Homo sapiens: one gene and its partners. The protein of the gene in region 6 purifies or fractionates together with the protein of the main gene of each other region. This does not show direct contact. Each region holds a gene or a part of one and is shown on either strand. Other genes may lie near its edges.

Region 1 (4,051 bases), on a different chromosome or scaffold from region 6:
GGTCAGGAGTTCAAAACCAGTCTAGTCAACATGGTGAAACCCCGTGTCAACTAAAAATAAATAAAAATTGCTGGGTGTGGTGGCGGACACCTTTAATCCCAGCTACTCAGGAGGCTGAGGCAGGAAAGCCGCTTGAACCTGGGAGGCAGAGGTTGCAGTGAGCCGAGATCGTGCAACTGCACTCCAGCCTAGGCGGCAGAGTGAGACTCACTCTCAAAAAAAACCAAAAAGCTGGGTGTGGTGGCACATGCCTATAATCCCAGCTACTCGGGAGGCTGAGGCAGGAGAATCACTTGAACCCGGGAGGCGGAGGTTGCAATGAGCTGAGATCACACCACTGCACTCCAGCCTAGGCGACAGAGCGAGACTCCATCTCAAAAAAAAAAAAAGGTGTACAATTCAGTGTTTAAGTATATTCACAGCGTTGTGCAAATACCACCTCTGTCTAGTTCCAGAACACTTGCACCCCCCAAAAGAGGCCACATCACCATCAGCAGTCACTCCCTATTCCTCTTCCCCTAGCCCCTGGTAACCATCAATCTGCTTTCTGTCTCTGTGGCTTTCCCTGTTCTGGACATTTCAGTCCATATCAATGGAATCACAGGCCGGGTGCGATCACTCACGTTTGTAATCCCCGTGCTTTGGGAGGCTGAGGCAGGAGGATTGCTTGAGGCCAGGAGTTCAAGACCAGCCTGGGCAACATAGCAAGAGTCCGTCTCTACAAAATAAAAAATAATTAGGCACAGTGGCTTGTGCCTGTAGTTCCAGCTACTTAGGAGGCTGAGGTGGAAGGATCGCCTGAGCGTAGGAGGCTGAGGCCACAGTGAGCTATGATTGTGCCACTGCACTCCAGCCTGGGCAACAGAACAAGACCCTGTCTCTTAAAAGAAAAAAAAAAAAAGGAAACAAGGAAACAAGGCACCAATACATACATGATACAATGTGGTTGAACCTCAACAACACAATACTAAGTGAAAGAAGCCAGACACAAAAGGCCACACAGTGTGAGAGTACATTTATTTATTTATTTTGGAGACAGGGTCTCACTCTGTCGCCCAGGCTGGAGTGCAGTGGCGAAATCTCGGCTTACTGCAGCCTTGACCTCCTGGGCTCAAGTGATCCTCCCACCTGAGCCTCCTAAGTAGCTGGGACTATAGGTGCAGGCCACCATGCCTAGCTTTTTTTTTTTTTTTTTAAGGCAGGGTCTGACTATGTTGCCCAGGCTGGCCTTGAACTCCTGGGCTCAAGTGATCCTCCCGCCTCGGCCTTCCAAAGTGCTGGGATTACAGGCCTGAGCCACTGCGCCTGGCCCTTCGTTCCTTTTTATGGCTGAATATTCCTCCACTGCATGGATACGCCACATTTTGTTTATCCATTGTCCACAGCTAGACATTTGGGCTGTTTCCACGTTGGGGCTTTTTTTTGTTTTGAGACGGAGTTTTGCTCTTTCACCCAGGCTGGAATGCAGTGGCACAATCTCGGCTCACTGCAACCTCCACCCACCCGGTTCAAGCAATTCTCCTGTTTCAGCCTCCCAAGCAGCTAGGATTACAGGCACCTGCCACCACGCCCGGCTAATTTTTGTATTTTTATAGAGATGGGGTTTCACCATGTTGGCATGTGCCACCATGCCTATCTGATTTTTGTATTTTTAGTAGAGACGGGGTTTCACTATGTTGGCCAGGCTGGTCTCAAACTCTTGACCTCAAGTGATCCGCTTGCCTCGGCCTCTCAAAGTGCCTGGATTACAGGTGTGAGCCACAGTGCCTGGCAATTTCTGCTGTTTAAGCCACCCAGTCTGTGGTATTAGTTATGACAGCCCAAGCTGGAAATACAGACACTTTTCTCTGTGTAGTAAACACTCACTCACTTGCACACGTCATTCAATAAATATGTACTGGGCACCTAATACGTGTGCGATGCTGGGGAAAGAGGTGGCACAAATGAGCTTTCTGCCTGCATGGGACTCCCAGAGAAGAGCCAACACATGCAATCAGAGTCCTAATAAGGACACGCAGGGCGCCGGGGAAGCCCGGAGAGGGCTTCTGACCCAGCCTGGGTCAAAGGGCTTCCTAAAGGAGACATCTAAGGAAAAGTCTGAATGAGTGGGGGAGAGCGCAGCCTGCACGCGGGATGCAGGAGGTAGGCTGGAAAAGGGGGCGATTTGTATTCCAGGGAGATGGGAAGGTGTGGAGGGCGTTAGAGCCGGGAAGCCCAATCTATGGGTCACACAAGCCCTCTGGGGTTAGTGAGGAGGTGGACTCCCCAGATGGCAGGAGCTGGGAGCCCAGGCGGTACCCAGGGAGTGGCTCAGGCTGGGCGAGGGGCACACTTAGAAGCGAATCAAGACCCATGGGGATTAAGACCCCACGGATGTGAAGGTAAAATAACAGAATACAAAATTCAACAATGCCTCCTCTAAGCAGCCCTCCCGGCTATCCCTTTTGAAGTCCCCCACCACTAATCCCCCTACAAGAGGCCGGGGGAGTCCGCGCCCAACTCTGTCCCTCTCGAGACCAGAAGCTGCCTAGGGGCAGTCCGGGGCCAGGTGGCCTCGAACATGCTGTCGCGTCGGGCTTCAATCGTCTAGTCTGGAAATGGGCATCGCCCCCAACTAGGTGCGGTTCAGACTGGACGCCAGAAGTGCTCCTGCCTCCCAGCACCCCTCCTCCAGCCTTCCCAGGGGATGGTCCCAGGCCAAGCAGCCCCCGCCCCGCGCCTCTGCTCCCCGAACCCGGGTTCCGCCCGCGCCGCAGACGCTCCTACCTTCTTACCCCAGCGCCGGCCCGGTCGCGCCTCCGTGACGTCATCATGGGGCCTGCGCGCTGAGCTCCTGGCGGCGCGCACTCATTGCGCCTCAGTACCGCCGCCATTTTGGTAAAGAAAAAGATGGCTGGGCCTCGGACCCAAGCCAGGGTAGTCAGCCACTTCTTTGTCTCTTCAAAAAGAGGACACTTAATACGCCCTCATTCCCTACGCTCATTTAATATGTTGATGAACCAGGAGGGGCGGGCAGAGGCGAAAATCTAGAACATTGCCTTTACCAAGATGGCCGATGCCCGGATGAAAGATGGCAGCTGCGACTACACACGTGGTCCGGCGGCTTCAGCCTGGAGCGGCCCGGCCGCCAGAGCGCGCCCGCGGTCCATGAGGGGAGGTGGACCCAGTATAGCCCTGAGGAAGCCTCTCCGTAGCTCTTCGCAATCCCTTAACGCTTTAAAAGTGCTTTCCTAGTCCTGAGTCTCTGCGTCCCACTGGTGACGCTGGGGCGGGGCTAGGAGAGGGGAGATAAATGGGGCAGAGAAATTAACACACACCGCGCAGTCCAGGTAGGGAAACCGAGGCTCAGAGAGACCAGGAATTGAGTTTGGCCAAAATGTAACCGCGAGTAGGCTCATAACCGCGAGTAGGCTCAAATTCCGTCTCTTGCTCCTGCCAGTGCCTCTTCCTGGATTGCTGACCTGCTCCCCACTTCTGCAATATTATTTATTAATTTTATTTAGAAATTAGGTTTGAGGCGCCAATTTGTCTTAGGCACTATACTTTAGATTTTCTGCATTTACTACTTCTCGGTGTTCTCAACAGTAAAAATGGCAGTATTAGGGGTCTAAGGTTACACTGGTCCTGACTGTGGAGAGGGAAAAGCAAATGCTTTGGGGGCAGTTCAGGTAGGAGTAGTTGACCACAGAGTCCATTCCCTAAAAGGCATCCCCCCAGCGACCTTGCTGGGACCTAAATCCCAGTGCGCGATGCACCTCCCCTGCTCTAACGCCTCCCCTGGGTTCCCATTGTCCCGCAAGACTCCTCCCACCTCCCACCCCATCTCCCTTGGCTTCCCTCACCCTCCCATTAGCTCTCTGCTCAGGTCGCACCAGCCCCCTTCTTACAAATTGCCAGGCGCAGTCTTGCCTCAGGGAGTTCCCCCAGGAATTTCCCAGGTTTTTCCGTGGCCAGTTCCTTCCCTTCAGGCATGAGACAGAAAGGTCTCTGGGTGCAGGGGGCTTAAAGTCGGAAAATCACATGAAAGATTATTATCCTGGCTGGTCGCAGT
Region 2 (3,500 bases), on a different chromosome or scaffold from region 6:
ATGTTTCGTTTTTTAAGATGGGAAAAATAACAAACGTTTGTTAAATGGGTGGGAATGATCCAATGAAAAAAGATTTAAATTGGTATGAGGGGCAAAAAAGGGAAGAATACATGGGGCAATATATCGAGTAGGAAAGAGGAGATGGAATCTAGGGCAAAATGAGGAGAGGTTGGTCTTAATTAGGAGCAGGAACAGTTTACTTATAAAAACGGGAACTTTCATAAGCAGAGACCATGGATACAGATACAAGTAGTTGGGTAGATAATGGAATAGAAGTTTGTCGATGTTCTATTTTATTGCTTGACTTATCTGCAAGAAAAACAGGACAATCAGCAGAGAATGAACATAGAAAAGGTGTTGGAGGTGGGAGGAGGGTAAAGGCGGGAAAGAGTTGTCTAGGAGAGCAGGAGTATGAATAAACTTGCAAAGTACAGTGTGACTGTCTGTACTTTACCTGGCATGATGTTTGTCCTTAGTCTTCTCGAGACTACAACCTGGTAGAGAGAAATACTGAGAATAAGCACAAGCACGTACCTGGTGAAATCATGAAAGTAGGTGCAGCTGACTGCCCCACATCCTGCAGAGATTCTAAATGGGAATCCTCACTTATTCCTTTTTGTGTTTGTGCAATTTCCATGTCTTTAATTGGAACTGGTGTTGCCTCTGTTTCTGAGAGTGGTGGAACATCTTTGGCTGGAGTCACATTGTTGGCCAGGGTCAGAACCCCATCCTTAGCCAGGGGTGCTTCTGTTTTGAGGGCTGGGACCTGATCCTCAGTCAGGGCCACCTCCATTTCTGGAGGCAGACATACGTTCTTGATGAGAACTACTTCTGTTTCTGGAGGTGGAGTCACATCCTTGCCCAGAGCCATTTCTGTTTCTGATAGTGGAGACATGTCCTTCAACAAGCCCACTTCTTTTACTGTGGACGGAGCCACATCCTTGGCCGGGGCTATTTCTGTTTCTGGGAGTTGAGCCATGTCCTTGACTGGGGCCACCTCTGCTTCTAAAGGTAGTGCTTTATCCTTGGTCAAGATCACGTTGGTTTCCGGGGGCAGTGTCATGTCCCTGGCCAGGGCTACCTCTGTTTCTGAGGACAAAGCCACCTTCTCAGCAGAGGATATTTCTGTGGATGATATAATGTCATTAGCCTGTGCCACCTCTATTTCTGAGAGTAATACCAAATCCTTGGCTGGGACTATCTTGTTTTCTTTGGGTGGTCCCATGTCCTTGGAAGGAGCCAAGTCCATTTTTATAGGAGATGCCCTCTCTGTTTCTTTCTTGTTTTCTTTGGGTGGTCCCATGTCCTTGGAAGGGGCTAAGTCCATTTTTATAGGAGATGCCCTCTCTGTTTCTTTCAACAGTGTCACATCCTTGGCTGGGGCTACCTCTGTTTCTGTGGGCAGTACCACATTCTTGGCTGAAGATACATCTGTTTCTGTGGGCCATCTGACATCCTTAACCAGGGCCACTTCTTTTTCTGTGGGTAGTTCCATGTCCTTGACTAGGGCCATATCTGATTCCATGGATGGCTGCATGTCCTTGGCCAGTGTCACATCTAATTTGGTGGGTGATTCCATATCTTTAGCCAATGCCACCTCGGTTTTTGTAGCTAGTGCCATGTCCTTGGCGAGGGCCATCTCTGTTTCTTTAGATGGTGCCATGTCAGTAGTCTTCAGTCCCATCATTATTTCCAATGCTTGTGCTGGTGGCCTCTCTTCTGATGCCATTTCTATCTCCTTGGCTAGCTCTAAGGGAACTAAATTGGAAATTTAGGACACATCATTGTCTACTCATACCTTTGCATTAAAAATGCTTACTTTCTTCAGGCATGAGAGTATTTGGCTTTTGTGACCATAAGACTGTACACATAACTAAGAATTAATGTTAGGCCGGGCACAGTGGCTCACGCCTGTAATCCCAGAACTTTGGGAGGCCGAGGCGGATGGATCATCTGAGGTCAGGAGTTCGAGACCAGCCTGACAAACATGGTGAAACCCTGTCTCTACTAAAAATACAGAAATTAGCCATGCAGTGGCAGGCGCCTGTAATCCCAGCTACTTGGGAGGCTGAAGCAGGAGAATTGCTAGAACCCAGGAGGCGGAGTTTGCAATGAACCGAGATCACGGCATTGCACTCCAGCCTGGGGGACAGGGCAAGAGTCCGTCTCAAAAAAAAAAAAAAAAAAAGAAGAAGAAGCTAATGTCAAGTAACATATTCTGCCTACTCTTTGACAGTCTCAACACTTGGAAGAATAAGATGTAAAATACTGGGAGGACAAGTAGTGGAGGAGAAATGGCAAAGAAGAGAGAAAACATAGGCTTCAAAAATAACACGGGCACAGAATTAGTATTAGAAAGATAATCTGTGGGACAGCAGGTCAGTCATGCTTCCTATCAAGAAAAACTCCAGAGTTCTAAATCTGTACTGAATTTTTGTTTTTGTTTTTTGAGACACGGTCTCACGCTGTTGCCCAAGCTGGAGTGCAGTAGCATGATCTCGGCTCCCGGGTTCAAGCAATTCTCCTGTCTCAGCCTCCCTAGTAGCTGGGATTATAGGTACACGCCACCACGCTGAGCTTATTTATTTATTTATTTAGCTCTTTCACCCAGGCTGGAGTGCAGTGGCGCAATCTCGGCTGACAGCAACCTCTGCCTTCCGGTTTCAAGTGATTCTCCTGCCTCAGCCTCCCTAGTAGCTGGGATTACAGGCACCTGCCACCACGCCCAGCTAATTTTTTGTATTTTTAGTAGAGACGGGGTTTCACCATGTTGGCCAGGCTGGTCTCGAACTCCTGACCTCAGGTGATCTGCCCGCCTTGGCCTCCCAAAGTGTTGGGATTACAGGCGTGAGCCACCGTGCCTAGACCAATTTTTGTATTTTTTGTAGAAATGGGGTTTCACCATGTTGGCTGGGCTGGTCTGGAACTCCTGACCTCAAGTGATCTGCCTGCCTCAGCTTCCCAAAGTGCTGGGATTATAAGTGTGAGCCACCACACCAGGCCGTAAATCTGTACTGAATTAAAAAAAAAAATTCTGATACCTAATACAATGAAAATGTGATGAAAAAAATATATATATGTTAAAAAATTTAAAAAAAGTATTTATGTGCCCGTTAACCCTAAGTGTTATAGTTCAACAATTTAATTCCTCCAGTGGTGATATCACTAATATAAGCAAAACATTTGTGATTGTTCTGAAATTTTTATACCTGCTGTAAGCTGCTAAAAAATACACCTGATGATTTATATTGATTACCAATACTGCAACCATTAACTGATAAAGGGAGTCTCTAATAGTTTACCTGCCGTTGGCTGAGGAGGTTCTGCAACAGCCTCTGGGGAAACAAAGGACTCTGAGTGTGGAGAGTTTAAGGCTTCCACAGACCACCCCTGAGGTACAACAGCTGTGTTGCAGGGAGACATACCTAATATTGAAACACAAACAAATACATTTTGAAACTTAGTAAACATTGGAAACAAAAGGTATTTGATATATTTTT
Region 3 (3,500 bases), on a different chromosome or scaffold from region 6:
GTGGAAAGAGAGTCTGTGTCGATAGGCTAAGTGACCTGACTCCATTGGAAAGGCCTCAGAACTCAGGGGCGGAGGCTGGGCCAGGCCTCAGCTGACCCCTGCTGCCTCTCTGAGCTAGGAGGGCACAGCAGCAGCAGGAGACTCACCTTCGGGGATGGTATCCTCCTGGTACACAGGCCGGAGCAGCTGCAAGGGAAAGACAGGAAAACCACCTCAGCCCCAGGAACAGGGCAGGACAGCCCAGGAGGCTGCTGGACACGGGGGCCCCAGGGGAGAGGAAGTGGAGCACCTCAGGGCACAAGAGAAAAACAGCAGTTCTGGTAACCAGCTGAGGGAGGAGGCTGGGAGAGAACACAAAATCCCAGAATATTCAAGTTGAAAGAGGCTTTATGGGTCATGAAGCCTAACCCCTTGGCAAGTCCCCAACTTCCTTTACAGCAGCTGGTTCCAAAGTGCATTCTAGGGAACACTGGAATGGTAAGACGGTACCAACCACGCCCTAAAGTGTGCCCCCATTAGGCAAGTTTGGGAAATGCGGTGTTATTTGGTTGACACCTGCTGTAGTACAGGATGCCAGCAGAGCCTCTACTAGGCTCCTTTGCATTGAGAATCTCCTAGATGAGGAAGAGGGTATGGGATATGTCGCAAGCTTATTTGACCTCAGAACACCTTTTTCCCAGAGCATCTCATGGGACTAATGTTTTGGGGAGCGCACTCCATCATCCCACCATGCAATCATGCAGTGTCTGCTTTCATACCTCCTATGATGGGGGCTCACCACCTACCAAGGCAGCCCATTCCACTGGGGAAAAGCACAGGCTAGTAGAAAGCTCTTCCTTCTGTGAGTTGAAATCTTCCAGCCTGTGCATGCCCTGGTCTTGAATCTGTGCCCTGAGGCCACATAGACCCATCTGTCCTCCCTACCAAGAACAGCCTTGCAGAAGGCAGAGCTAGCACATACCCCATCTCCTTGCCCAACATCGCAGCCCCTCACAGGCTGCTCATCACACAACTTTGGGTCTTCAAGTCTTCCTGGCCTCCCACAGGGACCCAGTACCCTTCACCTTCCCCACACCAGCTGTCCGTACCTGGCTCCCAGGATTCAGCGGGGCCAGGATGATGTAGTTGGGGTCGGTGGGGGCAGTGGCACGGGACAGTGCAGGCAGGGTGTGCTGGCCCCCGCGCTTGGCCACCTCGGTGTAGCGCTCCCAGCCGCCGAGCAGCAGCCCATCAGAGCTGTCACATACCAGGTGGCAGCTGTGGCGCTGCTCAGGCCGTGCCTGGACCCCATGGGTGCAGTTCTTCTCCCGTTTGTTGGGGGGTGACTGGAGGTCATGTGTCGACTTGCAGGAGGCCCGCCGCAGGACCCCGCCATCTGGTCCTGGCTTGACCTGGGGGACCATGCGCCACACGAGTAGGATGATCTCACTGGGGCAGCTCCTGGAAGGTGGGGGATCACACAGACAGGTTGAGCCTGGGGAAAGCCAGTATCAGCCAGAGTGAGGGCCCACAGGGCAGAGAGGATAATGGGGGAAGAGGAGGCAGACACCAGAGGGGAAGCCCCCAGTGTCAGGGCAGGAAGGGATGCAAGAAGCCATTTAAAGAAGAGACAGCAAATGGGTCACCTAGGTCAATTCCTATTGACGGGCAGTGGTTGAGAAGGACCCTGAGGCCAGGCCAGTTTCAACAGGAAAGAGTTCCATACTCAATCCATGATGCTTATCAAAAGCAAGATATAAGCAAGTAAAGCTAGCAGGTCACCTAAGTGCAAGCCCTCATCTGGTTATTCCAGAAGCAGACCTAAAATGGGGCCATCGGGGTTTTACCCTAGAGGATCAAAATTTGGGAGACTCCAATGTTTTCAAGAATATTTTTTTAATTGTGCAATTGAAACATTTGCAACATCTTCATGCCCTTAAATAACAAATGGGCTTAGCTCTTAGGTAACAAAAATTAGCTAAAGCAGAAAGCAACCTCCTGGTGCCCCGTCCTGAACCACAGAGTCTGAGAGCATCTTCCCTGCTGTTTGCTCTGGAATCCAAAAGTGCTCTGAGCCTGAACCTTCCATTCTCAGGCCAAGAAACAGATTCCTTGAAGAGCAAAAGGAATTGCCTGCTCACAGCTAGGCAAAAGAGGGAGCAGCAAGAGCTGGGCCAGGCAAGGCAGTGTGCCCAGGGGTGGGGAGGGTGTGCCATCAGCCTGAGGCCCCAGGCCACCCGCTGTCCCCTGTCACCGGATCTCGTGGGCCAGCTCCACACATTTCCAGTGCTCCACAGGCCTCTCATTCAGCTGCAGCACCGTGTCCAGCTGCTGCAGCCCTGCCCGTTCCGCCGGACCCCCTGCAGGGACAAAGAAAAGCCATTCAGGGGCCCCTGAAGCCTAAGACCCCTTCAAAGGATCTGGAGTCCTTTGCTGCCATGGTGACCTCAGACAAGGACCTCCCTTTTTCTCTAAGTTTCTTCATCCGTGAAATGAGGGACTGAACTTGGTGCCTCTCAAGAGCCTTGAAAGAAGGCATCCCTTTGCCTTCCCTTCTCCCTGCTTGCCTCCCCTACTGCTGGCTTACCTCCCCTACTGCTGGCTTACCTCTCTGCAGTCCACCCTTCTACCCGGGCCCTTACCCCTCCCCAGGGCCTCCTACCCCATTGAGAACCTTCCCTGGGGCCAGGCTCCCACACTACATTTATTCCTTCTCTGCCAATCATTGTGCACGAACCTCATGCCCACCCTTGTGTAGGCACTGGAAACACCCTGACCACTGAGCCCTGGCTTCTGTCTTTGAGATGCTCACTCTGTGATTAAGAGAAATCTTCATTTGTGAAAAGTAGGGAAGGATGGCTCTTTTTAAGTGCTGATCAGGCTCTGGATAGGATACAAAACAGCTTCAAATAGAGTTCACAAATGACTCTCATTTTCCCTTGCAGCCATTGCTGAAAATATAGGTTTAGTTCCTGTTCAAACTGATTGGGAAACAAAATATAAAAACCTATTTTCATTTTGATAAAAACAACAAAAAAAAAGTGGGCATATTTTCATAAATGGCAGTTTCATCTACGGTCACTTAAAAATATTATTCTTTTCATTTTGAAAAGCCAGGACACTTTGCTCCAGTTTGGGGCTCCCCTTTTAGTTCCAGACTATGTTTGCAAAGCCCACATGTGTGGTGGGCAAGTGGGGTTGGCATCCCCCTGTCAATAACTTACCGGAATCCACGGCCTGGACTCGAACTGGAGAGTCGCAGCAGATGGTGAAGCCAAAGCCGTCCTTTCCCCTCGGGATGGTGATCTAGGACACAGCCCTGCCCGGTCACTGCCAGAAGCTGGAGGCTCTTGCCTCTACCCCAAGGTCAGGAAGCCCACAGCCCACCCCTGCCAAGAGCCACCCTCCTCTCCAAGGGAACTGGAGGCACAAAGGAGCTAGCCAGCCCCTCAGTGTCCCTATCTCAGCCCAGACAACTTGAGCACTGGGTTGTGGGCCAAGCAGGAAGGCCCAAAGCTCAG
Region 4 (3,500 bases), about 100 Mb from region 6:
AGTTCCGGCTAATACTAAAATAGCTGCAGGGTCCTATTAAGTCAGGAACCCTAGTGTCTTCTCAACAATTCCTACCTTCTAGCCCCTTTGTATCTAGTTGTAAAGCAACATGCTACTCTAAGAACAGCTGTTTATTTTCCAGAAGGGTATTCATTTCCACCAGATTTCAACTTAAAAAAAAATCCTGCAAGAGTGCAAGCTACACTTAACACTTTTTTCTAAGATACAGAACCCACTAGGGAATGCCCTGTTTTCTGACATGTGGGCCTTGCCATCATCCCCCTTAAGGTCACTTCGGGATACTAGATCTGACAACCGAATAATGCTTGAAAATCCCCAAGCATCTCTAACACGTAACTCTTTGAGGATGAGTAGTGCAAGAGAGGGCAGTGCAGGAGCATTCCTGGGCAATCCTAACACTGCTGGAAAGGTTTCTAGAAGTTGTGCCTGTGCTACCTAGAAACTTCTGTTGCCAGCTAGAATGTCGTAACTTCTAGAATACACGTTGGTAAACTCTTAAAAGCCTATCCTTTATTTGCTTCAAGGAAAAGATTTCAGCTCAGAGTCCCATTAAAGCAGAAAAAACACACAATAATCATTTAACTACATGACAGACAGCACTGTAAGTAAATGGCAAAGTAAATGGGCCTCTGTCATCACATATTCAGCCATCTGCCTCCTGAGAAACAAGGGTGCTTACCTTCTTATTATCTTCTTGTTTCAAATGGGGTACCTTGATATAATATAAACTAAATTCCAAAACAGGGCAAAAATAAGAAAATATTTGTCTTAAAGAGACAGCTCAGAACTATATATTTTAAAATAACGGAATTTAGATTTTATACAAAATGTGTGGAAAAATGACAAATTATAGTCACTAAACATAAATTTCATTAAAGACATTATCAAATATCATAGATGCAAATAAAAACAACAATAAAAACTTATGGTTAGAGTAGTATTAAAAATATAAGGCTGAAACCAGATTACATGAGTTGAGCGAGTCGGGAGCAGAGGACCAGCTTGCTGGCTGGTACTGGAATACCACAGAGGCTCCACCACTCATTAGCACAAATGGGGCGGCCGCATGACGCTGACCACAGATATTTATTAGCCAGATTTTATAGTTATAGATAACTGGGGGCACTTAAACAGCTGTAACAGCACTAACTCCAAACAAGAATCAACAGTAAAATTACTTTGGGTAAGCGGCCTGAGTCTGCTGACTAGGAAGGGCTGGGTTTGCGGATGGTGGGACCACTGCCTGGCTGAGAGAAGACAGCTGCTCCGGGGGAAGACTGTAGCTCTGGAGGTGGCTCATCTGCGCGTTCCCTGCAACCAGGTAGGCACCACTTGGAGGAGGCCCTGCATACACCTGCGATGGTTAAAGAGAAATCATATTCAATTCTAAAATTTTAATAAGCATACTGAACTTTCTCTGTAGAGGTATTCAGTTACAAAAACAAGAAAAATCACCACTCTGGAATCCTTTTTTCAAAGTTATTTCTGTCAACGGGCATTTTGAAAAACGCTTTTCAATGAAATAGGCTGTTGATGGTTTTCATTTTTAGTTAAACATATGCTAAACTCATGTTATCTCCATACTGAAGCATTAAAGAAACTTATCCTGAAACTTTATACTAATCTCCCTTTACATTAAATATATTTTAATATTCTGCATGTTGGTATTTTTTAAGGAATCCCAAAGGATATTTAGAAAGTGTATTTGAACTCATTGTTTTGTAGCCATAGACTGCAATGGATACAAGTCACATTTCCTAAACTGCAGTTTATTGAACAATAGAGCAAGCTAACTTTCTAAAGCAGGGGTCAGCAAACTTTTTTGTAAAGGGCCTGACGTAAATATTTTAAGTTTTGTGGACCATGTAGTCTCTGACACAACTACTCGGCTCTGTCAGTAAATCAGAGTGGCTGTGTTCTGATAAAAGTTTATTTAAAGCCGCCAGGCATGGTGGCTCATGCCTGTAATCCCAGCACTTTGGGAGGCCGAGGCAGGCAGATCACGAGGTCAGGAGATCGAGACCATCCTGGCTAACACAGTGAAACCCCGTCTCTACTAAAAATACAAAAAATTAGCCAGGCGTGGTGGCGGGCGCCTGCAGTCCCAGCTACTCGGGAGGCTGAGGCAGGAGAATGGCCTGAACCCAGGAGGCGGAGCTGGCAGCGAGCTGAGATCGCGCCACTGCACTCCAGCCTGGGCGACAAAGCAAGACTCCGTCTCAAAAAAAAGTTTATTAAAAAAAAAAAAAACAGGCAACAGGCTGGATTTGTCTACTTCTGTATTTCAAAATGCATTTTTTTAATCTAAAGAGATTGAAGTCTTAACTACCCAAAGTCTAAAACACATAATGTCCTAATTTTCTGCAGTATTCATTAGATCCTTCCATTTAGCACTTCTGTTAAACGACAGACCCACACAGGGATCCAAAGGGTCTTCATTATAAACACAGCTATACCAGTCCTCCTAACTTTATTTTGTCATTCTTCGAAAATTGAACATGAAGGTTTTTTGCTTCCTTGTCTCAAACTGGTGATCAAGACTCTAAAGCAGGTGCCCTCTAGCCCCAAGTTTCTTGGGCCTAGCTGTTCATCTACAGGGTGCTGGCCCCTCATTCTGCTAAACGTTAATCTGAACACAGTCCGTGCCCACTTTACATGGAAAAAATGGAGTATCTGGCTAGTTTTGTTTTTATTTATTATTATTATTATTATTATTTTTTGAGGTGGAGTCTTGCTCTGTCGCCCAGGCTGGAGTGCAATGGCACGATCTCGGCTCACTGCAACCTCCGCCTCCCGGGTTCATGCCATTCTCCTGCCTCAGCCTCCCAAGTAGCTGGGACTATAGGCACCCACCACCACGCCAGGCTAAATTTTTTGTATTTTGAGCAGAGACAGGGTTTCACCATGTTAGCCAGGATGGTCTCCATCTCCTGACCTCGTGATCCACCCGCCTCGGCCTCCCAACGTGCTGGGATTACAGGTATGAGCCACCGCACCCGGCCAGTATCTGGCTAGTTATTCCCTATAACCTCACCTCACCGTGATGAGTTTGTGAAAAGGGGGTCCTTGAAATAGTTGCTTGGGGTGAAAAGAAAGCAAACGGCTCTACACTGCATTGCATGCATTCTCATGTAAAGCAGGGAAAATTCCAGATTAAAGCAGTTTTTAAATTATGGAAATATATTTTGTTGGTTTGTAATAATAAAAACAGGTTTTTACCTCATTTTTTTTTCACTGCATTTAAGTTTTCCTTTTAAGGATAACTAGAAGTTCATTAGATATTTAAGAGAGTTTTCTTAGCTCTAAAAGCATTTTGTGTTTTTTACGAAACTACTTTATTGAGATATGTCTGACCTGCAAAAGGCTATACATATTGAGTGTACACAACCTGATGAAGAACTAAGGTTCTTAAGTAAATAATTACATACGAAGCTTTAAAAATATGGGCCTCGGCCGGGCGCGATGGCTCACACCTGGAA
Region 5 (3,500 bases), on a different chromosome or scaffold from region 6:
TAAAATGCCACTGTTCCATTTTCCTAACCTTCAGAAGTAACTGTGTACCTTCCCTATTGTGCTTCTTCAATTAAGAGCTATAAAATTTATATAGCTTTAATTATAAAACCTAACATTAAAAAGTTACTTATATATAAAACTACCAGCCACATGACCAAAAATCTAAATTTTAATTTAAACCCCAAAATTACAAAGTTTTTGGGTAAGATTAAATTGTGTTAAGTATTGTTTTACTCTTATCACTCTTCTTTGAAATATGATAAACTATGATATTTAATATAGTTTCTTGATTAATAAAAATATTTAATAAGCTACAATACAGATCTTTAAAGTACACTGGATAAATGAGAATTCTGTACTTGCCCAACCACCTAACCCATCTCAGCAAAAAGTTCAAAGCTTTTTGTTCCTTAGTGACCATTTCTCCAATTTCCCAATTGTTTTTGATGTTGTTCTAAATGTATCCTTAATATGTCTCCTTAAGGAGTCTTTCAGAGCATCCATTGCTCTCCATAGGGCCTTTATGTAACTAGGAAAAATACATCCTTCTGGGGAAATACAGACACTTTTGGCAAGGAGCTGATGCCTTGGAGAGAGAAGTGGAGGCACAGTTCCCTCTGCGAGGCCTAAGCTGGGGCACAGGACTCTGTAAGCAGAACACAGGCTGACTTGTTGCTTCCTTCAGTCCAGCATCTTTGGGCAGTATACAAGCTGCATAACCATATATAGCAGCCCTGTACCTTCAGATTGTTCACTGGCAAACAGGGAAGAAAAAATGAATTATTAACTTATCTAGATACCCATTCTCCAACCACATACATGTATCCATCTCTTATCCTTCAGACTCAAGATTTATTCAGAAGGGATCTTCCAACCTTATAGGGAACGTATCTTCCCCTTTATCTTTAATTTTCCCTTTTCGTGGTTCTCTTTTCTGCTTTAAATATGGTCAAGACTCATGTCTTGATATTGTGTAATATCAAAGAATATTAAATTCAGAAGATATATAGAAATACATAAATGTACTCTTTGCAATAGTCCTCTGAGATAGGGGAAATGGATATTATCCTTGTATCACAAATCAATATATTTAAAACTTAAGCCAGGTTAACTTGCCCCAAAATTAACAGCTGGCACAAAGTGACAAAAAGGACTAAACCTAGGTTTTAAAACAATTAGTCTAGAGTCCACTTTGAGTATTCAATATATCTAAAAATCAAGAGATTTTCCCTCTTCCCCCTTTAACCTTCCACTTTTGTAACTTGACCTAGATTATTTTAAGGTCACCAAGGATATCACAGCCAAATCCAAAGACTACTTGTCACATATTTTTCTGAACTCTGCTACATTTAGCTCTAATAATCCTGTTTTTAGATTATCCTCTTCTGCCCTGATTTCTATAGTGACTTCCTTCTTATTTTGTCTTGTTCTTCCCTTGCCATAGACTGTCCTAGACATCCTATTACATTTCTCTATCTAAATAAACCTACTCCTTTGCGGTTTATCATGAAAGTGGTTGTCTCAAGTATGTAGTTAAGACTAATTCATATCTCTATTCCTGTAATGCTGCCATTTCCTATTTTATCAATCTATTCCATTCTAGGCTTTCGACCTTCATTAACTGTACCTGTGGCCTGATCCTATCCAGTATTCATTTCTTATAGCAGTAATGTCCCAAAGGGTGGAATACAAAGACTGGTAGTATACTGGATGATTTTAAGTGATCCACAGAAAATTATGTAAAATCATGTTTATTTTAAAACATGTTGGGGGGAAGCTAATGCCAAATAATCATAAAAATTTCCTTTTAAACGGCAGGATGCAGTGGCTCACGCCTGTAATCCCAGCACTTTGGGAGGCCAAGGTGGGCGGATCACGAGGTCAGGAGTTCGAGACCAGTCTGACAACATGGTGAAACCCCATCTCTACTAAAAATACAAAAATTAGCCAGGCGTGATGGCAGGCACCTGTAATCCCAGCTACTCAGGAAGCTGAGGTAGGAGAATCACTTGAACCCGGGAGGGAGAGGTTGCAGTGAGCCAAGATAGCGCCACTGCACTCCAGCCTGGGCAACGGAGTGAGACTCCATCTAAAAAAAGAAAAAAAAAATTCGTTTAAATTCATTTAATTAAAAGACAGCAAGTTGAATTGAAGAAAAATATTAAGTAACAGGCAGATGGTTTGGGACGAAGCAGAAATTGTGAATGATTTAAGTTTGGAAAATACTGGCCACTAGGAAACCCATGTAGTTGAGTTAGGCACTCAGGCTCTGGATCAATAATTCAAATGCCATTTCTACCACTTAAAAGCTAAGTAACTTTGAGCAAATTACTTAAATCTCTTCCTTTTAGGCTTTCTGCAATATGGATTTAAATAGATCATTCAAAAAATAGTCTTAGTTTAGTAACATGGCATAGTAAGTGCTCAAGAAATATTAATAATCACAATTATTCTTGATTTTTCTTAGACATCACAGCTTCACTTATAATCAACTAGGAACTCAATCTGTACTATCTGTAATTTTCTGTACCAAATTTCCCTTACCTTCTTATACACCTTTTTATCTTCTGGCATGAATCCAAAGACTACAAGATAACTTTTAACATTAATCCTTAAGGCTGTGAACACCTTGGGAGTGGACCAAATGCCATATTGCTCTGATTCACTGGGCCTTACAAAATTAAAAGAATCTTCAATCTTTGTTGAATAAGCTAAAAATTTTAAAAATCAGATGTAAATAAATCTCACAATGCATATTATTTAACACAAACTCTTCGAAGGTTACCTGTGATACTATTCTTAGAGGTAAAGGAAAAAAAACCTGACAGCATTTTCTTTTGCTCCAATAATATACTTATCAGTTAATCTTGTGGGTCTATTCTTTTGTGTTTCTCACCCTCATTCATTCAATAACATATAAACTCTAGGTATACGCCAACCACCATACAAGGTGATGAGGACATGGAAACAGTCTAGTAGAGGAAAACAAACTAGTATTAGAACACAGAAAACAGAAAAATTACCAGATAGTATGTAGTACATATTGCTATGTAGTATGCTACATACATAATACCCAATAGTTTTTTTAATACTAGACGTGCTCCTCAAATGATATTCCATCTTCCCTTAATGTTGAGCACATAGCAGCACCACACAGGGATGAGTATATCACACTGACTATAATTCACATAATAATTTCATTACAATCTTGTGTTCAGACTCTTAGTTAACAGTCTAAGAGTCTAGTTAATCATGTCTGCCAATCAGATAAAAATTTCCGGTTGAAACTAAGTAACAGTCCTTGTTTGACTGGATTTGCCAGCAAATACATGTAGTCACAGGCCCCAAAACATGCTTTCTGATAATCTGGAGGAAAATAAGGACTAGAAATGTAACTGGCAATGCTGGGAGCAATGGTAGGCACTTCTAGTCCCAGCTACCTGGGAGGCTGAGGCAGGAGATTCTCTTGAGCCCAGGAGTTGGAGGCCAGCCAGGGCAAC
Region 6 (3,500 bases):
TCTAATTGTATTATTCTCCAGTCCACATTTCTTAAGTCCTATTCTTCAAGGATATCTCATGAGGGACTTTGCCAAATACCCTAATATCCAAATATATCACTGGCTGCACTGCTTTAATATATAAATCCCACTTGGACAGAAATTCAATTTTCCTACCTAATGATATTCGCTGGTAAAAGAACCCTCACTGGAAGTTGCTCTTTAATTTGGGTGTTAACAAATTTTGTAAAGTTATTTTAAGGAAAATCTTAATCATACTGTGCTCAAGAAATGGGATATGTGGTCAAATTCTGAATTACCTAAAGGTTTACAAAACACAAAGCCCCGCCAAAACACGTAATTTGTGTTTAAATCTCCTAAGACATTTGTCCAATCCCTGCCTTATGACACAGCAATTAATCACCTTACAATGTAAAGTGCTGTACACAATTAAGGCTTTTAACAAAACCCTTAACAACATATTCTCTCAAATCCAGGAACATAAATATATTCTTAATATACAGATTGCCAAAGCTGAAATTTAGAATGTAAGTTTTTCTAATTGCAGGAAGCTAATGATAGCAAATGGGTAGAAAACCTAAACAGTGTAAGTCTGAGTACTGTAAAGTTTAAAAATTAACACCTGCATTTGGAATGTGTTTTTTTTTTTTGTTATTTACTCTGCTTTTAAAAGTAGAATGGAGATTCAGGGGGTAGGATTAGGAAGTGAATAGAGGCTAGTGTAAGGTGTTAGTGTAATTTAGTTTCTTAATTTATTTTCTATCTATAAATCATATCTTTCCCTTTGCTTTTCTTAATTCAAATGATACCTGAAGTAAACATTCCAGATGCAAAAAAAAAAAAAGATAAGGTTTTCAGTAGCAATAATTAGGGCCAATATTACATTACCTCACTTTCTCCCCAATTTTTACTGATTATTAGTAAATACTCTTAATTTCAAGTATGTACAGGGAACAGAACATAAGACACTGTTTCTTTTACAAGCTGGTTTTTGTTTCCTTTTAAGCCTGCACCCCACTGACCTAATTTTAGATTTTAATTTCAGCATTCCCTGAAATGAAAATCATCACCTTAATTAAGTTCTGACATGATTCAGAAGTTTCAGAATATAAAAACACCTCTTAATTAAAAGCCTGGTGAAACAAAGCATTTTAAAATGAGTATTTCACAAAAACATTGTTATTTTAATATAAAATTTAAGATAAGGTTCAAGACCATGCAATGATACACAACTTTTGGAACAAAACTGATTTTCCACTAGGGTAAAACTACTATTTTAAAACCAGAATAGTACAATGATATATAATATATAATTCTCTCCCATATGTATGCATCTATATCTTAAAATTATTTATGACTATTGGATATGCCTGGCACTATAAAACATATGCCAAAATAGAACTTTTAAAATGACAATGTAAAAAACAAACATAAATAGAAACCCTAAATATTTTTCCTGTACATGGTGAAGCATGCTGTGGCTTCAACATGCATTCCCTGGAATATAATATCACCTGAGAGGGTTTGGCTTTTAAGATTTTATTACAGAAAATTTCCAATATATACAAAAGTACAGAGAACAGTAAAATCAACTCAGTGGTAGACCATAAAACATGGTAACAAATTCCTCCTATCCTTATAAGCATATCTCTTTGCAATGTAACTTTACTAAAGCTGCTGCTAGAGGTATAACTTGGTTTCTTCATCCCTCTCTCAGCAACCAATATAACTAGAAAAAAATAAGTGGAGGCACAGGCAACCTCAACATCATCAACCTTGATTTAACTGACACTTATAGAACATTATACTCAACAATGGCAAAATACATTCTTTTCAAGTGTACATGGTAAGTTCACCAGGATGTAGAAGGTCATGAAACAAATATCAGTAATTTTAAAAAGACAGAACTCTTACAAAGCATGTTTTCTGACCATAGTGGAATTAAATTACAAATTAGTAACTAGGAAAACCCCAAATATCTGGAGAGCAAAACAACACACTTCTAAATAATTCATGAGTTAAAGAAAAATCACAAGAGAAATCCAAAAATATTTCAAATGAAATGATGAAAATGCAACCAATCAGAATTTGTGGGATGCAACTAAAGTAGTGTTTTAGAGGAAATTTATAGTTTTAAATGCTTATATAGGGGGGAAAATCTAAAATTAGTGACCTAAGTCCCCATTTTAAGAAATTAAACCCCAAAGTAGAAGCAAAGAAATAATAAAGAACAGAAACCAATGGAACAGATACTTAAATAATAGAGAAATCAATAAAAGCTGACTCAATAAAATGACCAATAAAACTGGTAAGCCTATAGGCTAAACTGATCAAGAAACAAGAGAGAAGACACATATTACCAAATAAATGGCTATTACCAAAAAGACAAAAAAAAAAAAAAAAAACAAAAAAACAAATATTGACAAGGATGTGGAAGAAGAGGAACTCCTATACACTGTTAGTGGGAAAGTAGATTAGTTACAGCTATTATGAAAAACAGTACAGTGGTTCCTCAAAAATTTAAAAATAGAACTAGCAATGATCCAATAATCCCACTATTGGGTATATAGTCAAAGAAAATGAAATTGGTATGATGAAGATATACTTGCACTTCCTTGATTACTGCAGTACTATTCACAAGAGCCAAGCTATGGAATCAACCTAAGAGTCCATCAATGGATAAATGGATAAAAAATGTGCGGTATACAAACACAGTGGAATACTATTCAGCCACAAAAAACAAAACCCCAGAGAAAAGTCATTTATGACAACATGGATGAACCCAGAGGACATTATGTTAAGTGAAATAAGCCAGGCAGAGAAGGACAAATACTGTATGATCTCACTCATATGTGGAATCTAAAAAACTTGATCTCATAGAAATAGACGTAGAAGAGTGGTTACCAGAGGCTGGGGAGAATAGGGGGAGTGGGGAGATCAGAAGTGGCTATAAAAAGTTACAGTTAGGAGGTATAAGTTCTGATGTTCTATTGCACAATAGGGTAACTATAGTTAATAATGTATTGTATATTCCAAAATAGCTGGAAGAGATTATTTTTAATATTTTCACCACAAAGAAATGTTTGCGGTGATGGCTATGCTAGTTATCCTGATTTGATCACTTGAGCTGGGAAGGTGGAGGTTGCATTGAGCCATGACTGCACCACTACAGTCCAGCCTGGGCAACAGAGCTAGACCCTGCCTCAAAAACAAAAAAAACCCACCACCACCAACAAAACCCAAAAAAGACTGAAAATGAACTCAGTGGTAGACCATAAAACATGGTAACAAATTCCTCCTATTCTTATAAGCATGTCTCTTTGCAATGTAACTTTACTAAAGCTGCTGTTAGAGGTAAAACTTGGTTTCTTCATCCTCTCAGCAACCAATATAACTAGAAAAAAGAAGTGGAGGCACAGGCAACCTCAACATCATCAACCTTGATTTAACTGACACTTATAGAACATTATACTCAACAATGGCAAAATACATTCTTTTAA
Region 7 (3,500 bases), on a different chromosome or scaffold from region 6:
GCGTGTGCTACCATCTCCAGCTAATTTTTGTATTTTTAGTAGAGACGGGGTTTCACTATGTTGGCCAGGCTGGTCTCAAATTCCTGACCTCGAGTGATGTGCCCGCCTCTGCCTCCCAAAGTGCTGGGATTGCAGACGCGAACCACTGCGCCCGGCCCATGGTAGTATTAAGTGTAATGTTTGATCGGTTATAATTTGTAAGAACAAATCATGTATAAACTTGGGTACTGTGGCTGCTTGAGTAATATTTCACTCTTTATAACAGTGATAGTGTGTCACAATGCCATAGTTGACTAGATGCTATTGTATAGTGCTCATGTGCATTTGGACTTCATTATTAGATTTAGAAGATGATTGAAGTTATTTTTAGAATGAGTTCAGTATTGATGTTCCGAGTTAGTATATATTTTAAACATTTTGTGATTCTACCACCTGATTAATTTAGCTCCTTAAAACATGTTTATACTGTTTTATACTGCAGTTGCCTTAATAGTTTACCTTCCTGAAAAATTTATTCCTTTATTGCTTTCTGTTTACTTTCCCTAGGTTATTCTTAGAGCTGTTTTTTATTCTACTCTTGCTTGTAACCTGTGATTAACTTTTGCATATATATTTAAGATCTTCATCAGAGGATTATAGACCTGCCAGACTAAGATCCTGTATTTTACTTCTCCAATCTTGTTTTCTCCAGTCAGACTTTACTGTTCTAGAATTTTTTTTTTTTTTTTATTTATGCTATACTGTTTCTCTGGAAAGCTTTTCTTCACATATTTCAACTTTTAATTCATACCTATCAGTTGTTCCCAGCCATTGCTCTTCTGTACCATTCCTTTTCATCGCACGAAACTTTTGCTAATTTCCCTACCACCTAAATTTTAAGAGACAGAGTCTTACTCTGCCACTCAGTTTGGAGTGCAGTGGCATGGTCATGGCTCACTGCAGCCTCAAGTTTTGTAGGCTCAAGCAATCTTCCTGAGTAGCTGGCAATACAGGTGCCTGCCACCATGCCTGGCTAATTATTATCTCTTTTTTTTTTTTTTGGTAGAGATAGGGTTTCATCCTGTTGCCCAGGCTCGTCTTGAACTCCTGCCCTCAAGCAGGCCTCCCAAGCTCAGCATCTGAAAGTGCTAGGATTACAGGTGTGAGGCACTGTGCCCAGCCCATTTTAAAATTTACTGTCTCGGCAATATGTAACAAAAGGAAAATGAGGCTATCACCTAATCATGTTTTTGTTTTCTCACTTTTTTCTGAACTCTCTGTTCATGTGCCTTTGTAAATTTAATCTAGTTCTGATTTTAGAATTTATGCAATTGTATAGTGTATTCTAAAGGATAAAAGATTAGTATTCTAAAGCAGGGGTTGTGAATCCAAGCTCCACCAAGGTTGGTGAAGGCAGTTTTGTTTGGAGAATGTAATTAAAACCTGGAGTATGGAGCCAGAGTGGTATGGTTTGAATCCCACGTCTGGCACTTAACTGTGGCTGCTTTCCCACTACAACAGCATCATTGAGTAGTTATGACAGATTGTATGGTCTGCAGAGATTAAAATAATTCTTATTTGGCCCTTTCCAGAAAACGTTTACCAACTCCTGAACTAAATGTATGGAGGAGCCATTTGTTTAGTTGGGAAGATACAGATTGGGAATAGATTTGGAAATGGGCTAGGAAATGGGAATTCAGTTTTTCGGTTTTGAGTGGGCGTGGTGGTTCACACTTAACAATCCCAGCACTTTGAGGGGCCGAAGCGAAAGGATCTCTTGAGTCCAAGAGTCCAAGATCAGCCTGGTCAACACAGTGAGACTCCATCTCTTAAACACAAAAAATTAGCTGGATGTGGTAGCACGTTTCTGTAATATGAGCTACTTGAGAGGCTGAGATGGGAGGTTCCCTTGAGGCTGGGAGGATCCTTTGAGCCCAGGAAGTTGAGGGTGCAGTGAGCTGTGATTGTGTCACTGCACTCCAACCTGGGTGACAGAGCAAGACCTTTTTTTTTTGAGATGGAGTTTCAGTCTTGTTGCCCAGACTGGAGTGCAATGGCACGATCTTGGCTCACCGCAACCTCCGCCTCCCGGGTTCAAGCGATTCTCCTGCCTCAGATTCCTGAGTAGCTGGGATTACAGGCATGCGCCACCATATGCGGCTAATTTTATATTTTTAGTAGAGACGGGGTTTCTCCACGTTGGTCAGGCTGGTCTTGGTATTTCTCCATGTTGGTCAGGCTGGTCTTGAACTCCCGACCTCAGGTGATCCACCTGCCTCGGCCTCCCAAAGTGCTGAGATTACAGGCGTGAGCCACTGTGCCCAGCCAAGACCCTGTCATAAAAAAAATTTAGGTTTTGAACATGGTAGGTCTGAGTTGTTTATTAGACATTTAAGTGTAATTACCTATAATAGATACCTGTAGTAGTAATTAATAAGACTGAGCATTTTTCTGTGTTGTTTTTGTGAGTTCTTTTCAAGTCCTTTACTCATTCGCTAACTGGCTAAGTATCTTTCACAGTGAATTGTGACATTTATTTAAAAATTTCTGTGTTCGGCCTGGCACAGTGGTAATCCCAGCTACTCAGAAGGCTGAGTTGGGGGGATTACTGGAGCCCAGGAGTTCGAGAGCAGCCTAGGTGACACAGTGAGGCCCAGTCTCTAAAAAATTTTTTTTAATTAGCCAGGTTTAGTGTTGTGGGCTTGTATTCCCAGCTACTCAGGAAGCTGAGGTGGGATGATCACTTCAGCCTGTGAGCTATGATCATGCCACTGTACTCTAGCCTATGTGAGAGTTAGACCCTGTCTCTTAAAAAAAATTCTGTATTTGTCTTGCCTCCCCAAGATTTAGACTTTGTGCAAAGAACTCTTCTGATTCTATAGGGTGTTTTATTTGTTGAATGACATAAGGGATTAGTAAAGAAGCTAACTATGAGAATAGGACAAAATGAATTAAAGTATAGGTTATGGTCTTTTATGAATTCTAGTTTTCTTGAATTTTTGTACCATTTCTTTGAATTCAAATAATAAGCATATTGTTGTTTTCTTTTAAAATCAGCCCTGTGAAGTTAACATGGGTTACTTTTCCTTTCTAAGCTTAATTTTTTCTTTTTAATTTAATGGATAAAAGAAAATCAATGGAATAAAATTAATTTATCTTATCCTTTAAATTGATTTTATCTTTTTACTTTTTTCTTTTATTTTTATTTTTATTTTTTTGAGACGGAGTCGTGCTGTGTCACCCAGGCTGGAGTGCAGTGGTGATCTCGCCTCACTGGAAGCTCCGCCTCCCGGGTTCGCGCCACTCCTCAGCCTCCCAAGTGGCTGGGACTACAGGGCTCCGCCCCCACGCCCAGCTAATTTTTTGTATTTTTTAGTAGAGATGGAGTTTCACCGTGTTAGCCAGGATGGTCTCGATCTCCTGACCTCATGATTTGCCTGCCTTGGCCTCCCAAAGTGCTGGGATTACAGGCGTGAGCCACCGTGCCCGTCTACTTTTTCCTTAAACAAGATCAATATGGG

What was found.
Region 1: the proteins of PDZD8 (region 6) and CCDC124 purify together in Homo sapiens (affinity purification with mass spectrometry; one large-scale study listed by BioGRID and IntAct). This does not show direct contact.
Region 2: the proteins of PDZD8 (region 6) and MAP4 purify together in Homo sapiens (affinity purification with mass spectrometry; one large-scale study listed by BioGRID and IntAct). This does not show direct contact.
Region 3: the proteins of PDZD8 (region 6) and RGS3 purify together in Homo sapiens (co-immunoprecipitation; one large-scale study listed by IntAct). This does not show direct contact.
Region 4: the proteins of PDZD8 (region 6) and STAM purify together in Homo sapiens (affinity purification with mass spectrometry; one large-scale study listed by BioGRID and IntAct). This does not show direct contact.
Region 5: the proteins of PDZD8 (region 6) and PRRC2C purify together in Homo sapiens (affinity purification with mass spectrometry; one large-scale study listed by BioGRID and IntAct). This does not show direct contact.
Region 7: the proteins of PDZD8 (region 6) and ST13 purify together in Homo sapiens (affinity purification with mass spectrometry; one large-scale study listed by BioGRID and IntAct). This does not show direct contact.

Annotation. Positions count from the first base shown.
Region 1 is NC_000019.10:17,931,764-17,935,814, reverse strand, and holds the start of CCDC124 (coiled-coil domain-containing protein 124), read right to left. Parts: upstream 2,801-4,051; 5' UTR 2,767-2,800; intron 720-2,766; exon of another isoform or gene 624-719; intron 1-623. UniProt on the Homo sapiens protein: Ribosome-binding protein involved in ribosome hibernation: associates with translationally inactive ribosomes and stabilizes the nonrotated conformation of the 80S ribosome, thereby promoting ribosome preservation and storage.
Region 2 is NC_000003.12:47,915,417-47,918,916, forward strand, and holds part of MAP4 (microtubule-associated protein 4), read right to left. Parts: intron 3,426-3,500; coding exon 3,303-3,425; intron 1,759-3,302; coding exon 535-1,758; intron 1-534. UniProt on the Homo sapiens protein: Non-neuronal microtubule-associated protein. Promotes microtubule assembly.
Region 3 is NC_000009.12:113,505,227-113,508,726, reverse strand, and holds part of RGS3 (regulator of G-protein signaling 3), read right to left. Parts: intron 3,286-3,500; coding exon 3,204-3,285; intron 2,340-3,203; coding exon 2,234-2,339; intron 1,441-2,233; coding exon 1,089-1,440; intron 187-1,088; coding exon 147-186; intron 1-146. UniProt on the Homo sapiens protein: Down-regulates signaling from heterotrimeric G-proteins by increasing the GTPase activity of the alpha subunits, thereby driving them into their inactive GDP-bound form.
Region 4 is NC_000010.11:17,706,651-17,710,150, reverse strand, and holds part of STAM (signal transducing adapter molecule 1), read right to left. Parts: intron 1,376-3,500; coding exon 1,200-1,375; intron 1-1,199. UniProt on the Homo sapiens protein: Involved in intracellular signal transduction mediated by cytokines and growth factors. Upon IL-2 and GM-CSL stimulation, it plays a role in signaling leading to DNA synthesis and MYC induction. May also play a role in T-cell development.
Region 5 is NC_000001.11:171,488,530-171,492,029, reverse strand, and holds part of PRRC2C (protein PRRC2C), read right to left. Parts: intron 1-3,500. UniProt on the Homo sapiens protein: Required for efficient formation of stress granules.
Region 6 is NC_000010.11:117,291,941-117,295,440, forward strand, and holds part of PDZD8 (PDZ domain-containing protein 8), read right to left. Parts: exon of another isoform or gene 1,524-3,500; intron 1-1,523. UniProt on the Homo sapiens protein: Molecular tethering protein that connects endoplasmic reticulum and mitochondria membranes. PDZD8-dependent endoplasmic reticulum-mitochondria membrane tethering is essential for endoplasmic reticulum-mitochondria Ca(2+) transfer.
Region 7 is NC_000022.11:40,836,140-40,839,639, reverse strand, and holds part of ST13 (hsc70-interacting protein), read left to right. Parts: intron 1-3,500. UniProt on the Homo sapiens protein: One HIP oligomer binds the ATPase domains of at least two HSC70 molecules dependent on activation of the HSC70 ATPase by HSP40. Stabilizes the ADP state of HSC70 that has a high affinity for substrate protein.